2 separate regions of the Homo sapiens genome follow, and region 1 is linked to region 2. Evidence: fine-mapped expression QTL. Tissue or cell type: aorta. Region 2 holds a variant in brackets; the other region holds the start of a gene. All regions are shown on one strand. Distances are from middle to middle.

Region 1 (8,110 bases), 320 kb after region 2:
TTTCTAAATCAACCAAAGAAAGATTCAGGACATGATTCCATAAAGGCAACCACTGAGAACAGTGAAGCCCATTATTTCTCCTCCCACTGCAGGCCGAGGTCACCATCCCTGTCATTAGCCATGTCATAACATAATTGTATTACTACTCCTTATGTGGGCAGATACTGAGCAATAACTGAACACATCACATCGTTGTAAAAATGAAAAAGTACCACTTCTTTGTCCTATCTTAGCATAAAACCAGTGAAAACAATCTTTGGAAATGACGCTGCACTAAGAAACTGAAAAGAACTGTTATTACTCTGTAGGTATATATTTAAACTGATGATCTGACATCTTTAACTAGAATAGAAAACAAGACTATATCACTACAGAACTCCAATTGTAAGCTCATTTAATCCAATTTATTTTGGTAGCATTCAGCTCAATTAAGGGATACAATGTTACTTAAAATAGTCTAATTAGATGAAACTCCACTATGGTACTCATCTTTCAATGTCTGAAATATAACCATGCATTAGGCTGCAAGAGGTGAATACTGTTAACTCCAGCCTCCATGTGTCTGTCCAGTCTATGAGCTACACTGCTATTTCCAACACTGACCTATATACAGCAACATGCCATCCGTTCTGGCTGTTTGTGTAAGAGATGCCTCACACACTTGCCTTAACCAACATCATTCGCATTGTTCCCACAATGGGCTATGTGAAAATGGAGGCTACTTTGCATAGTGATATGTTCATAACGTGTATTAGTCTTACAGTAGAGCAATACTAGATTAAACCGTTTCCAAAAATGCCTCCTCCAGAGTTTATTAACTGAAAAATGTAAGTAGCATTTTGGCAATCTATAGAGCAGCAGTGCCGGAAAGTGTCAGCAGAGTAAAACAATCACATTTTAGTTTAGAAAGCTTCAGGAAGAGAATATTCATTTTCTCCATTAGAGTCTCTTCTGACATTGAAAAAAATGTCACCGGGAAACTGTAGCTACAGTTGTAGGATTCTAAAGCACAGATAGATACTGGTTCCGCTGGGATTTAGCACACCAACTTTAAATAAGCAAAGTGTTGACAGGTTTAAAATAAAGATAATTAGTAATTTATGATCTTATCACCCTATTAAAAACAAATCACCTGACAAACTGACTGCTATTTGTAGTAAGCTACATATTCATTACGCCTCCGAAGGAAGCAAGATTTACTTTGCAGTATTGTTCTTTTGGGGATGTCTGATCCAACTTGTTTTAATAAATGTAGGCACAGATTTCTTACTTCACCTTTTCCAAACTTCTGTCCTTCTTCCATTTCCCTGCAAATCCACTCATGTCATTGCAAAAACAAATGCTAGTTGACTGCATTATGCACAACTACAATTGTGGAGCTGGACAGAAATTTTGTACCAATGCTAATCATGGTGGAGTGAAAAAACTCAAGTGCCTGGGATTTGTGGGGCCTAGAAAACTATCCAGTACATTTAATATAATCGGGACCAGTGACAAATATATCTGATGGACTGCTACACAGAGATGGGCCAGAGATGTCCCTGGAGAAACATTTCCATGAAGTCTTCTTCCACTATTAGAAACATGTCTTATGACTTTGGATTTTAAAAAATCTATTATTCTCTGGATAAGTTAAATAGAAGACTCGCAACTAGTCTACAGAAAGGGTGCCTAATTTGCATTTAAAAAGAACAGTTTGCTTCTTATACACGGGGTGACTTAAAAGGAACTTCAATGAGCTAGTAAAGAAATTCTGAATACTTTCTAAATTAATTTATTCAATTCACAGCACAACCCACTAAAATTATTTAAAGCACTTAATTGGAAAATGATTTAATATATTGAAGTAATTCCTGATTTTCCAAAGCATTTAACTTTTAAATTAAATCTGACCCTACTTATCACAAGAACGAGGAGTGAAATGTGTATCCAAGTCATTAACTTCTTTTTGGGGCCTAAAATCACTGATAAACTTAATAAGATTTGTCCAGTCTCATTGCCAAAATAGTTCTGAGCTTTTGGTTCCGGTAACTACAGTGGAATAAGTCTTTACTCTCCAAGATAGGGCTGCAACTTTATTATTTTTTATTAGCAATAGTATTGGTGTCATAAGCAAAATAAAACGTAACACAATACTTGAGTGTACAGACAAAACAGATTTTAGACTAAAAGAACTATGTCACCAGCAAATAATGAAACTTCATCACACAAACTCCTATGCGCTTGCCAAAGTTCCCCGTACCTTTCAACTTGCCCGTAGCTGAAGGGCTCCCTGTACAATGGAAGCCCTTCTGCCTTGCTCAAGACTGGATGTCCCTCTTTTCTAACTTGCCTAAACACCATCGGCACACAGCACAGTCCTTTGAGTGGGTCTCACACTGGACACAGCATCGAGGAGCTTCTCCACGGGGAAGTGTGTGTGTGAGAGCCTGCCTGTGTGTCAACACTGTCCAAGACTCGGAGCTGCGACTCGGTCGCGTGGTGCGGAGTCCAGGGCTGAGAAGGCAGCGCACTAAATATCTCTGTATCAGGTAAAAAAGCCGTTTGGTGATGACTCGCCACCAGGCAAATGTTGGGAGTCCCAACGATTTTTCCCGTGGAATGCACCGAGGGTCGCCATGGATGTGCCTGCAGGGGCTGTGAGTATCAGGCAGATTTATCACCAAGCGAGAGTTGGGCGTCTAAAAGGCCCGCCCAGCGTTTTAGAGAACTCAATTCTCTCTGCCAACGTTCATCCAACGGGACTGCTTAGACACGTCCAACTAGCCCTAGGCGTGGGCAGTCGTGCCCCTGCGACCACTCTGGGGGACCGGTCCCTGCGTGTCCTCCCTCTCTGGGATGAGAGAGTTCGAGAAGCCGGGAGAGTAACCCCCTCCCTCGTACCCCCTGACTGTCCTATAGGTGGACCCAGCCGAACTCCGCAGCAGCCCAGGCCAGCGCCCCACCTCCGGGTCACCGGCATGATCCGCCTCTCCCCGGGCCCCCGCGGCCCTGGCACCCGAGGTCAGCGGGCCGTGGGTACAGCTCAGCCGCGGACCCTGCTCCGCGAGTGCGGGAGCTTTGGACTTGAACGCGACGTGCTCGCCCGGCTCCCAACAAACTTGCAATTTCCGCGCGCACCCCTTAAACAGGAACTGTTCCCCAAACCTTGACCCAGCTACCCCGCTGTGCTCTGGCCCGCGGACCTGTGTCCGAACCCGGGCTCGGCTGCCGGAACCGGTTTGAGAAAACAAAAGAGTTGTGGGGCAGTTTTCCCTGTGGGGGGCAGGGGCGCCTCCCAGGTCCCTGCACCCCGACTCCCGGCTGCTCCCCTGGCAACTAATCCGGAGAAGGGAAGTGGTGCCACGAGCCCCCACTGCCCGGGGAGGGAGGGAGAGAGAAGGGGGAACTGGGAAATAAACTGAATTCTCTTACTCTGCCTCCGTTCCTGGACCCCAGACACACCCCCAAAGTATTCCACGGTTTTCTCTTATTATTTTTTTAAACGCCCCCCGGCAAACCTAGGCAGGGATCCTTAGCCGCGAACAGCAGGAAGGAAAGAATCCGAGCAAATCGTGTCACTTTCCGCACAATCGCGGTGTTTGGCAAGCCCCCGGAGCTACTCCACAATATTTACTACCCAAGCGCACGCAGGCTGCAGCGGGCTGCGAGCCGAGCGCGCCCGGGACCGGCCTCCGCCAAGCCGGCCCCGCCGCGGCCCGGCCACCGCCGCTCCCCTCCCAGGATCAAGCAGCAAGAACACGGTGGAAACAAAAGCAGAGCGTTCACCTTGTTGCAATAGTAGGGGTCCAGGCAGGGAGAAGGTCCCAGACAGGGAGCGTCGGGCGCAGCGGCGGGCTGGGCTGGAGGTGGATAAAATCTTACGTCCATTTCACTCTCACATCAAGCAACTCCTTTTCTTTTTCCTTTTTTAAAAAAAAGTGTTCAGCAAAACAAGCTTAGACGGAACAGAGTGAGGTGTCTGGGCTCAGGAGTAAAAGAAACACCTTCCTTCCCTCACATCCGTTTGTGGTTTGTTTAAGAAGAAGAGGAAAAAAAAAAAAAAGAGGGGGGAAAAGCGCTCAACTCTCCCCCAAGCCGCGGCGCGCACCCGTCGGCGCCGAGCGCGCAGCCTGCTCCACCGCCGCCTCTTGGTCCCGCCGCCGCCGCTGCCGCCGCCGCCGGGCAGGTAACTTCATGCGCTCATTGTCCCCCCCGCCCGCCCCCCCATCCCCGCCTCCCGCGCCCCTCGCAGCCCGGCACACGCGCTCGGGCTCTAGGTACTGGGCGTTTTATTGGAGATTCTGAGTTGTTCTGCTTGTAGTTTATTTTCTCCACCTTGGAGGCCCGGGATGTGGGGGGTGGGGGGGTGGGGCGGGGATCCAGAAGGGACAGGGCGGGAGGGGGGCGAGCGTCCCGGGCCGGGCGGGGTAGGGAGCGCGGCCGGACGCGGGCTCGTCAAGGCCCAATGGCTGCTGTTCGGAACCAGAGGCCGGGGACCGGAGAAAGGAGGAGCGGAGAAGGAGAAGGAGGAGAGCACGGCCTGGCTGGGACAGAAGCGGTGGGACCCTGGGAGGCCTCCGCTGTGCCCGTGCCGCGCTCCTCGGGACCAGCGCGTCGCACACAAAGGGGCTGCCGAGCCAGAGCCACCAGCGGCCTCAGGGCACCGTGGGGAGCGCGCAGCTAGGGGGCGCTGTGGCGCACCCCGCCCCGCAGCCCCGCCCCCGGCCCTCCCCGGCCCCACCCCACTCCCACCGCCCTCTCCGCGGCCGTCCCCACCCCTATCTCCGCGACCCCCACTCCTCCTCGGCTGTTCCCCAACCCTGTCACTGTGCTCCCCTCCCTACTCCCGGCCCGTAGTGGAGGTGACTTTCCTGCGCAGCGCCGCTTCTGAGGGCGGAGAACCCACAGGGAGTGCGACCCCTTTGCACGCTGTGAGTGGGCAACTGTCCGAGGGACTCGAGCCGATCGAAGGGTGAGGACCAGCTCGCCTGGGGGTGGACGGCCTGGAAAAGCCGCCCCTCTTTGGCTTCCCTCTGCCGCCTGCAGCCCGCACCCCTCCGAGATTCGTGCCCCACTGGACGGTTTGCGAAGGCTGAGGCTGCCTTGGGGACTCACAAAAGACCACAGGGGTGATTCGAAGTGTAAATAGGGAAACAATCATCAGCACACAATCCGGCTAAAGGGATAACATATGAGTTTGCTTGTTGTCCTTCATGGGATTCTTCTCTTTTTATAGCTGGACGCCCTATAGGGCTCTTGGCAGTCCACGAAAGACCTGGAGTCCGCCTCCCCATTTCTCCGGTCGGTGAGTGGCAGGAGGAAATCGCCAAACATGTTTTCCCGCTTTGCCTCCCCAACTCGGAAACTTGCAACTTGCCGTGTCCTGGAGGTTGAGACAATTTGGGGTCTCTTGGCTGCCGTCCAACAGATTTATCTCTGAGGGCAGTGTCCTTGGTGAGAGGTCCAAGTAGGTGTGGGCGACATTGTCCTCCATCTCATGAGGGAGCAGCCCTGCACACTAGGGCCCAAAACTCTGCGAAGGAGCTTGGAAGTTCTTCATCCGTTCCACTTGTTTTGCTACTCCACACACCCTTCTAGGACATGTTGATTGCCAACTGCTCTGTGCAGCTTTCCCATAGCTGTCTGTTCCCGTGCATTTCGGAGCACCAAGCAAATACGAGCAGAGAGACCTGGAAAAAAAAATGATGAAGACAGTATTAATGATAAAATTAACATGGCTGAGTGAATTGTCAATGCAAGTTCCTTTACTAACTCTTTGTTAAGTTTTGCTTTGTACTCCTTACATCCTCTTTCTCTTAAGCCATTGTTTTAATTTCTTCTCGTTATCATTTTTAAAAGTAACAGAAATACAGCTTTCTTCCTACCTTCACGATTGACTTGGTGGAGGTTGGGTTGCAAAGAGGAAGCAGTAAGAAAAAATAATTATTCTATACATTCACAAGTCCTTCAAGGCACAAAATAAAAGTAAGAAATAGAAAATATGTCCTTTCTCCTAATAAAGGTCTTTATAATAAAATTTAAATGAAGTTTTGTGTTTCATAACAGCTTCCCAAATACTGTTGTAGATACTAAAATGTGCCTGTATGTATTTCCTTCCACAATAATAATAGTAATAATAAACTTTTTTAGGTCCAAATTAAACATTTCTCAGCTTAAATTTCTATCCTCAATCCAACATTTATTATATCAAAACTTGATTTTTAAAAATAAAACTTTCTTGGAATTCATCATTGATGTCTGTTTGATGGCCTCGTGAACATCAGGAAGATGAAATGAAATGGTTCAAGACTGGAACAATACCATTATCTGCATCTTGACTCCTGGGAGATAATGATATCTCCTGCTTTCCTCTACAGACCTACCAGTTTTCTCTGCTTTAAGGGAAAATCCAAATGCATGAGACCTGTGCATTCTTCTACATAATCAAGAGTCTGGTTTCTTCCATCGGAGTGTATGGAGTTAAAGTGGTATACTGTACATGGCATGGTGTGATAGGTGGGAATATGAGCTACTGGGGGAAAAAGTTCTTACTTCTAGCCACTTATACAAAGAGAGGCCATCTCAGTGTAATCTGAAAAAATGCTCACTTTATAATGCTGTATCCAAGGCCCATCAAAAACTAAATGGATGTATTTGTACTAAAAGTTGGGGAAAGTTGAATATCTAAACCTCTGAGCAAATCTTTCTTAATTTAGAAAATAAAATAGAGCATCATTGTAATACTTTTCAGTTTCCTGGACATTCAACTCCACATCATGGATAAATAAAATAGTTATTTGTCCATTCACTCATTCATTTGTACATTAATCAACAGAGAGAGTGGTGAAAAACACTAATGCTTTGTATTATTTATAGGTTTAAAATACAAAACAAATTACTTAAAATGGTTCCTGCTCTAGATGTAGTCTTTCAGAGTAGTATTTTCCAAACTAGTCTGGTCAGTGAAGTCATCTTAGCAGTTTAGAAAAATACTCATGCCAGAGCCCCACACGCACAGATTCTGATTCAGTTCTTTTCAGGTAGGGCCTGAGCACAGGAATTTTTAAAAGCTCTCCAGTGGCTTTAATTTTCAGAAAAGATTGAGAACCACTGGCCTAAAAGGAAAGATAAGGTAGTCTAGAAGGAAAGAGTCCTTAACAAAGGAAATGTTAAAAGTATGAAATTTTAGTAGATAGGCTGGATTGTCATTTTGTGTTGATCCCCATAAGAGGACATTGAGGATCACCACTCCCAAAACCTCATCACCTACGCTGCCTTTTAGAGATGGAGTTGGCAATTTGCCCATTTACTGTCAGTAAACTTGCATGACTTGTAAAGGTCCAGGTTACAGTTTATTCACCTGACCTAGGAACTTTATGTACTCTAGTTACCAGAAAATGAGTGCCTGTAAACAAAACGTGTCTTTACCAGTGCTGATGTAATGCTATCAGTACCTACTTGTGAAATGCCTACTATATCGTGGACCTGGTCCTAATTTCTTTACATTGAATTTCGCAGTCTTATTTAATTTTCCAGATTACTTTGGAAAGCCTCATCAGTAATTACAAACCACACGGAGCATTTGATTTTGTTCCCTCAACATTGCCCATCTTCACTTTAATTATAGTTTCACAAATTGTTACGTTTTCAAATTTATACTTGTTTTCAGTGACCACATTTTATGTCTACTGATTCTTTGTATTATGTAGGTTAAGTCCTAAATCTTGTAGTAATGTCTCCAAATCACATACAGAATGTGTTACTTTGGGGAAAATAGCTTTTAGACAGTTAATCCTATCTGTGATTTACAAGAGTCTTATAAAAATTATTCAACAAACCATGGTACTTCCTGGCAGGCATTCTTTGCTAGATTTTGGAGTTAGTTTTTCTTCAAGGGTTGAAGCCCTCTATAGATGCACATGAGAATGAAATGTCATATAGAGGGGTTGATTTTGAAATGCCAGATATTAAAACTAAAATCAAAGCCTGCCGTATTGTATAACTAAATTAATATTTAGCCCTTCACTGGCCTTTCTGATTTATGGGCTAGTTTTCCAGTGACAGCTGATGTCGCAATATTTCTAGGGAAAAGAAAGCCTCATTCTTTTAAAATACCATTCATTTTATA
Region 2 (8,110 bases):
GTGTGGGATGAAAGGAGGGAAGGGTGGAGGATACAAAGAATCCTAACTTGGAAGGCTAAGTAGGTCAGCATGCCATTCTCCAAGAAAGGGAGTTTGGGAAGAGGAACAAGTCTTTACTGGAAGGTTATAAATTTGGTTTAGGCAACTCTTTTAATGTCAATTATTTATTAGGCACAGAATAAGAGTTGTCTGTCTGTGGTCAGTGGAACTATGGTTTAGTATTTAGAAGAGCTAAGACTTCAGAGAGAGGTTTTGGGGAGAGTTTCAGTATGGTCAAAAGTAGCAGAGAAATCTAGGAAGATAATACAGAATACAACTCATATGAAATTGGCAATTAGGGATCGTTGCAGATAATTTTCAAGAGCAAAGCCAGTGGTGGTATGGCAGAAAAGACCTTAGTTGAATGACTGGAAGTTGGTGTGGTAGACACTGCTAATATTGCAAATATCTACTCTCCCAGTCTTTGTCAATAGATCCTTGGTTTTATTCAAAGGGCCATGAGCAGCTAGGGATGAACATATGAGATATTTTTGGTCAATGAGACATATGTAGAAGTCTGTTGGAGATTTCTGAGAAAGTTTGTGGATCTTGACAGGCATTGCTTCTTTTCATTTTTCCTCTTTGCTCTTCCTGCTTCTTCTGTCCTAGAATACTATAAGAGACAACAAAGATGACAATGATTGTCTACACATTTAGGGTGATGAGAAAGATAGCATTGTGGAGCCCTGAACTGATTCTGACCAATCTGCCTCTAGAGACCTTCTTTTGTAACTCAAACAAACTGTTGAATAGCTTTAATCAGATAACCTAGGGCTTTATTAGTTGGGTGTCTTTTCATGATCAGAAGCTAAGTCCTCAAGTTGGTATTAAACCTGGCCATTGACAACAAAGAATCTCGGAGACTTAAAGTTGAAGGCAAGATCCACTTGCCATCCATTTATTAATTATTCTATGGCCACTGACATCAAAATAGTTTGGGGTAGCTCTAAAAATGCAAATGCCAGGTCATACCTATAGACTAACTGCATTGGACTATCTGGGAATGGAGCCCGGAAATCTACTTTTAATGCACTGAAGTTTGAGAAATACAGCATTGATTATGATTCTTCTGTGCCACTTTCAGATTCATGCATGTTCGCTACACTATACGCAGCCTGTGAAAGTGAGTTTGTGTCATTCCACTGGGGATGGATGGTTATGCCTATATCTGGATAAGTTAAAGAAACAATTAAAGAGCTAATTGGAAATCTAGTCATTAGAAAAGTCAGGCTTGGATGCTGACATGCTCTAGGTTGATTCTATAATACGTAACATCAATACCTAGTGCCTTACAAGTCTGTGAAGGAATGGGAGATCTTGAGGGCTACTGAATAACTGAAGGGAAAACAATTAGGGTGTGAATCTTTTCCTCTCCCTCCTCATTGAGCCCACAGGCACAGGCACATGTGATATCTCTGGGGAAAGCAGTAAGAAATATTCCCATAGAGATAAGGAAGGGTGGGGGGAAGATTGGAGTTCAAAGCAAAGTTGGATAGTTTCATCATCTGTGTTTTCCGCAATTAGTCAAGTTTTCACACCACACTATAGTTCTCGTTTGGGTCACTAGACTATTATTATATGCTTCCGCCTGCCATTTTAATTTTAAGTAACTTAGCAGATTTTTTTCTTCTTATGTTAACACAGGTAACATCTAGCAAGCAGTTTACATTGACCCTGTACAACAACCAAAAGTGGATGAAGTTTTGACTTGTTTATTTGTAGTTTCTTTCTTTGAACGTGGAGTGTCTGAAGAGATTTTTTTTCCAGTATGGTATGTTGTCCAAATGGAAATATTCTGCAAAGTAATGACATAAGGATAAAACCAAGATAGAGAGCTGACATCATTATGTTTGACAGAGCATATACAGGACTTATTCTGAAATTGAAGTGATCAAAGCTAACCTCACGAAAAAATGCAAACCCTCAAATGTTGTATGAAAATATACATAAACCAAATTTGTAAAGCAATACTAATGACATTTTTTAAAAAGTAAACTCCATCTAAAAAGACTCATCAGCTCCACTGTAGTCCAAAAGCTTGTTGGGTGGCAGAAATGATGATGATTAAAACCTGAGACGTCAGCAAAACTCTTTCACATCTTCAAAAATGTGAAAACAAACCTTAAGGCAAAATGTTAAAAATAGGCTCATTTTGGTGAAATGAAGCTGTTTGAATAAATAAAATTAATAGTTTTTATCTAAACCATCTGTGGTGTGAAATGGGAAGTCATATAGAAAAGTCCTTAGAGACTTCTGATCGCTCTACATTAGAAAGGAGAAGGGGCGGAGAAAAAAATGGGACCTCTTTCTATCTCTATGGGAATTAACAAAGTGATCAGCAAAGGGAAGCTGCAGGCCAACTTGCTCTGGTTGCAGGCAATCTGGCTTTTCCAGCTGTCCAGAAGTCGAAGGTAAATGTTCTGAAAACATAAGACCAGAATCATTTCAGTAAACCAATAGGTAGTATAAAGTAACAGATTCTCCTGGAAGTAAGGAAAGAAAGGAGGAGAGACAGAAAGAGAGAGGGGGACCTAAACTCCCAGAGACTTAGTACTATAAAGGACTGTCACTTCTGTTTTGTTGGTCTCCTGAAACCACATCATGAAACCAGATGTTAAAAATGGCCCAACTCAACAGCTAGAATGGCTTTGTAGGTGTAAGTATTTTGTAATAGTACCTGGAAATTGCAGTTTCATTTAGACACATTGTTCTTTCTTTTGTTCATGTATGAAACTCTTGCTAAGACAAGATTTAGGTTTCTGTGGGTCTATCTTGATAAAAAACAAAAACAAAGTAAAATATGAAATACCCCAGAATTGGTTCCAAATTTGTAGAGAGATGAATTCTGAGGATTTTCCTCAGGCTAGAGAAACCAGATAGTCCTCGCAAAGGCAAATCTAGTAAGATAAAAGTACAGGCTGCTTTTATACAGGACAATTTCTACACGTCTGTGCATTATACCAAGATGTTAGGTTTCTGGAGGGACTTTACCCATGGACCACAAGCAATGGGGATAACTTCGTTGGTTTTTGGGTAATCATAGTGGGGTCCCAACAGTTTGTCGAGGACCCCTCACTTAATTCATTGGCTTTATCAGATTCAGTCTTGGAATTGGTATACCCCTTCATCTCCCACACTTAGTTAACTCGTCTGAATAATCAAATAATTACAGGCCAATGGGAAGCAACCAAACTTATAAAAGAGCTATGAAGAATAAGTGTGCCACATGCTATCCTACAAAGCATGACAGGAATACATGTAAGGGATTTTTTTCCCTGCCCCTACCCTGGCCTTTCTTTGATTCTATTTAAAGCAGTATTGAGTATTTTTGGGATTAAAGGTTGAAGCTGTAGTCTTGTAATTTGATTAGCAACAATGTGCTTTAAATCCAGTGATAGAACTCTTGCTTTGCTGTAAGGTCTGAGGTACCTTTGGAGCAAGTAAGAGGGTGTATTTCTGTACAAACTGGCACTTGGCCTAATTTCTCAGTGTGATCAGGCCTCTGCAGAGAGAGTTCTTGCCCTAGAAAATGACCACAGTGCCCTTAAGCCCAGAGCTATTTTAGAACTTAGAACACTCAATGACTTATGGTCACAGATTAATTTTTAAGTAAATTCTGTCCTCTTGATTTTTCTTTGCCCCAGACTGGGCTTCAGAGCCAGACTCAGTGGGGCTGAGGCAAACGCACACCTTTCTTGTGTTCTCAATGTCTATAGTCACTTTATTTCTCTGATTGTAAGTGCTGAATTAGTGTTATTTCTCATCCCACTACCACCCCCCATTGTGATATGTGGAAAGGACCAGAGAGACAGCTTTAGGGTGTTCATGGTGGAAAGTGACATATTCAGGGATGAGCGGATGGCTCATTTGTCTGTACCTTGGAATCTGGCTGGATTTGATCCTGATTCAAATGTCAAGCATCAGAGTGCATCAACAGCAGAGACACCAAAATGAAGTTATTTAAAAGTTAAACGTTGGTAAACACCTGCTTGAAATGTCCTTGTAGACAGCTTAGCTTCTAAGCCACCTCCCTCCTTCCCCCAACCCCATGCCTTAGAGTGTAATGGAAAGTGCCGGCAGAGAAAGGGTTAAGAGATGACAATGTCCTTTTGCATCTGCTCTGACAACTTAGTCCTGCCTGATGCAATGCAAAAAGGCTGATATTAATCCCCCCAAAAGCAGTCATATTGGAAAGGCTAATGTGACTTTCACCACAACACTGGGCCCT[T/G]TGTAGTCTGATGTTTAATTCCATTGGAATGTTATTCTTTCCATTGCTTTTCTGACTATACTTGGATTTGAAACTACCAGGTCTTACTCCAGTACAAAACTCAATCTGCCTTGTGTTTGACAGACTTCAAAACATCCAAATCTGTTTTATTCTACGGGTTTCCACTGAATCAAAAAGCAAGGTGCATGCTTTACCAAGTAAGTGGCTTGTCCTCCTTCAGAGTTCTTGGGAGAAATCCCAGTTCCAGCGCTAAAGATGAATGGCCACTACTGAACTTCTCAGCATCCCACTGTGGGGTCTTTTCCTAGCTATATGGCAGATATGGCATGTGCCTGGCCTGAAGAAACAAAACATTAATTTTGGAATTCTGATGGCTTTAAACCTTTGATCATCACTTTCTAACTGTCTTTAAAACATTTTGCCTACAACAGTTGCAAGCTGTGGTTTTTTTGTCTGTGTGAGGTGACTAACAGTGCTACCGCTACCGCTCTCTATGTGGGGAATGTATTCATCTAGCACCCAAAACCACCTACTGGCTTCCGGCACCTCTTATCAGCTAAGCCATCAGCCCTGAGCTGACATTTCAGCATTCAGAAGCTCCCTACCCCCACCAGAAGTAAGTGACAGGAGGAGAAAAAAGCTCATTTGGCAATAGTTTGCTTTTGCTGTTTGGCCTGGAGAAAGACATTCAGAGTGGTAGAAGATTGTTTAGGAACAGCTGGCGAGCACCAGGGTGTGAGGCTGATTTTCAGATATGACAGCCACTTACAGGAATGCTGCCAGATACAGCTGTTTAAAAGCCTTAATAAACAGCAAGTCAATACTAATCTTTGCCAAATTAATCTTTTCCCTGACAGCCTATCAGAGCAATTATGTTTGGGCTTATTGTAAACATACAATTGTCAAACAGGGACGCTCCAGACTTTAAAATACTGTAGTTTGGTTCATACTCTTTCTTTAGAATGGGATTTTTGTTTTCTCTGTAGTATCGTAAGTCTTTCCATTTTATTTTCTAGTCACTGTTCTTTTCTTCTGGCCTCATGTCAGTGTGAATAAAATTTCACTTTCAAATGTCTTTGCTAGCAAGCTGTTAATAAAATGTGAAATGATTCCTGCTGGTGGGCTTCATTAATTAGGCGCAACTCTGACCGTGCTGAACTATAACAGGTCATTGTTCTCAGTTGTCTCTCATCCGGGAACAAGAACTTCATCTTCACTTCTTCTCATCTACTACATTGCAGGCTGATGCTGGATACAAATGACAAGATGTTTGGCTAAGTATGAAATGAGAAGGCAAAGTCTAATCTCTCTGTGTACACGTAGATTGCCAAGTGTGTCTAACTTGGGTTTGAAGTTACCTCTTCCTCCCGCGGCTCCCAGCCTTCCTCCTCCGTGGTTGGTGAGGTTAGGGGGCTCCCCATCCCCTTTCTCCAAGCAATGGTCTTGTGTACAGATTTGGAGACTTTTTTTTTGTTAGGAAAGGTTTTCCACACTGGGAAATCGTTCCAAATAAAAGTAGAGAAATCGCCTTTGAAAATCCTAAAAAATAGAACCAGGAAATACAGTCTTTTCCTTGCTTCACCAAGTCATACTAACACTTGGTAATTAGAAAAAAAAAATTCAGTATCCTGTTCATCAATAGTTTAATTTAGAATCCATGAAACTTGTCTCCTGAATGTTCTCTCTTGTGTTTGACACCCTACATGTCTAGCACCTCTTTTCTCCCTTCTTATTTTCTTGGTGAGACTAGTGTGTATTAGATCTTTTACTTTTGTCACAAATAGAAAAGCTCTTGTTCAACTATGTAGGCCAAAAAAATATGGCATAACTCATTTTGAAATTCTTTCAATCTTTTTGTAACCCTAGGTTTTTAATGAAACATTTGCATCTTCACTCCTAATGCTTGCCTGTAATATTCAATTCCCATCTATATTTAAAGAGCCTTTAAATCATCAAGAAAACACCATACAATTCCTGTTGAGGATAATTGATGATGTTTTATTGATCTTTCTTTGTATCATTGCATTTTTTGTGCATCTACTGTGTGCTATGACATTCCAAATTGTTTTGGAGATAAGGAAATTGTTGAATTTCAGGCAGACAAAGAGATTTTTACCATGGGGTGACTCACATGAATTCAACCATTAAGTGGAAGGGTGACTTAGATTTAGAGGTTAAACTCATGATACGAATTTTTAACCTTGCCTTGCCACTATTTTAATATTTAATAATCAGCAAAAGAGATGAATTTTCTGTTTCTATCCTTCCTTGAAAATAACAATTATGGCTGGACACGGTGGCTCATGCTTGTAATCCCAGCACTTTTGGGAGGCTGAGGCACGTGGATCGCTTGAGCCCAGGAGTTCAAGACCAGCCTGGGCAACATGGCAAAACCCTGTCACTGCAAAATATAGAAAAAAATTAGCCAGGCGTGTTGGCATGCACCTGTGGTCCCAGCTACTTGGGAGGCTGAGGTGGGAGGATTGGTTGAGCCCGGGAGGTAGAGGTTGTGGTGAGCCAAGATTGTGCCACTGCACTCCAGCCTGGGTGACACAGTGAGGCCCTGTCTCCAGAAAAAAAAAAAAAAAAGAAATAAAAGAAAAAAAAAGAAAATGACAATTATGAGTGGAATAAGAAAATGTAGGTCAAATCTCTATTTAACGGATAAACATGAGGACGTCTATGTTTAACAAAAACTTTCTGTTCCAGCAGATAACCTATTTATTACAAATGTTCATATGAATTTTTTACTATAACAAAGAAATATGAATGGCTATTGGGATTTACTGGTAATTTAAAATATTCCTTGTTTAATATAACATACCTGTCTAGGACTCATTCTAAGTGGGGTACCTTGTAAACAAACATAATTGATTATTCCTTTGAGCATTTTCTCCCAGGACTTTGTAAAGTACTTCTAATTCCATTTGAAATTACATATCAAGTTATGGTCAAAACCCCATTGTCTCTAATTCCCACACCTTTTGGTTGAATCATATGAAATTACCATTTCATAGATAAAACAGGTCAAATATTAGCAATTTCATATGGTTCAGTCTAATCACTTTTCCAATGAGTGGGACAACTCTTTTGCAAAGGGCAAGAGATCCATAGAAAAGGGATTGGTTGTTGATGTGCTAATTTTAAGTCATGCATTCATAAGTTTAAGAAATATCTTAGTAATGAATCTGAGCCAGAGTATACATTGACCCTTGATTAACAAGGGTTTGAAGCAAGCAAGTCCACTTATGTGCAAATTTTCTTTCATCTCTGCCACATCTGAGACAGCGAGACTAACCCCCTTCTTCCTCCTCCTCCTCAGCCTATACAATATGAAGAAGAGGATGAAGACCTTTATGATAATCCACTTCCACTTATTGACACTAGTTAATAACTTATTTCTCTTCTTTATGATTTTCTTAATAACATTTTCTTTTCTCCAGCTTACTTTAAGAATACAGTATATAATACATAAAACATAGAAAATATGTGTCACTCAACTGATTATGTTATCAGTAAGGCTTCTCCTCAACAATAGGCTATTAGTAGTTAAGTTTTGCGGGGGTCAAAGTTGCATAGGCATTTTCAACTGCGTGGGTGTGGGGAGGAGTTGGTGCCCCGACCCCTGCATTGTTCGAGGGTTGACTGTATTGCTTTGGTGGCCACGGCTTCCCATGGACTGCTTGTGGTCCATGCAGACAGGCCTCTTTGCGTTTAACACAAATAATAAAAATAATCACAGAGACCAACTTCATCCTTGGCTATAATTTGACTAACTGGAAGTCATTATTTGACTCATTTTGCCTTATCAACTCGGTCACATTTGAATGGGAATCAGGATTT

Direction of the effects. Positions count from the first base shown, and alleles are read on the strand shown. Sizes are in standard deviations (SD) of each study's normalised expression.
For the expression in aorta of the gene that starts at base 4,030 in region 1, allele T in region 2 goes with a lower level than allele G (large effect, 0.84 SD a copy in GTEx).

What was found. PIP is the estimated chance that this variant, and not a neighbour inherited with it, causes the effect.
Region 1: it holds the start of TOX, and the variant in region 2 is fine-mapped to the expression of TOX in aorta (GTEx, PIP 0.93).

What each region holds. Positions count from the first base shown.
Region 1 is chr8:59,115,118-59,123,227 of GRCh38, forward strand. TOX (thymocyte selection associated high mobility group box) reads right to left here and starts at 4,030. Exons shown (of 9, transcript NM_014729.3): 1 at 3,769-4,030. The coding sequence starts at 3,870. TOX-DT (TOX divergent transcript) reads left to right here and starts at 4,093. Exons shown (of 3, transcript NR_149031.1): 1 at 4,093-4,168; 2 at 4,840-4,954; 3 at 5,219-8,110. RefSeq lists silencers at 667-716, 4,555-4,774.
Region 2 is chr8:58,796,799-58,804,908 of GRCh38, forward strand. No RefSeq gene overlaps it. Among named protein-coding and RNA genes, the nearest start is that of NSMAF, 140 kb to the left of the region's middle. The variant T/G (reference allele first, on the strand shown) is at 4,268.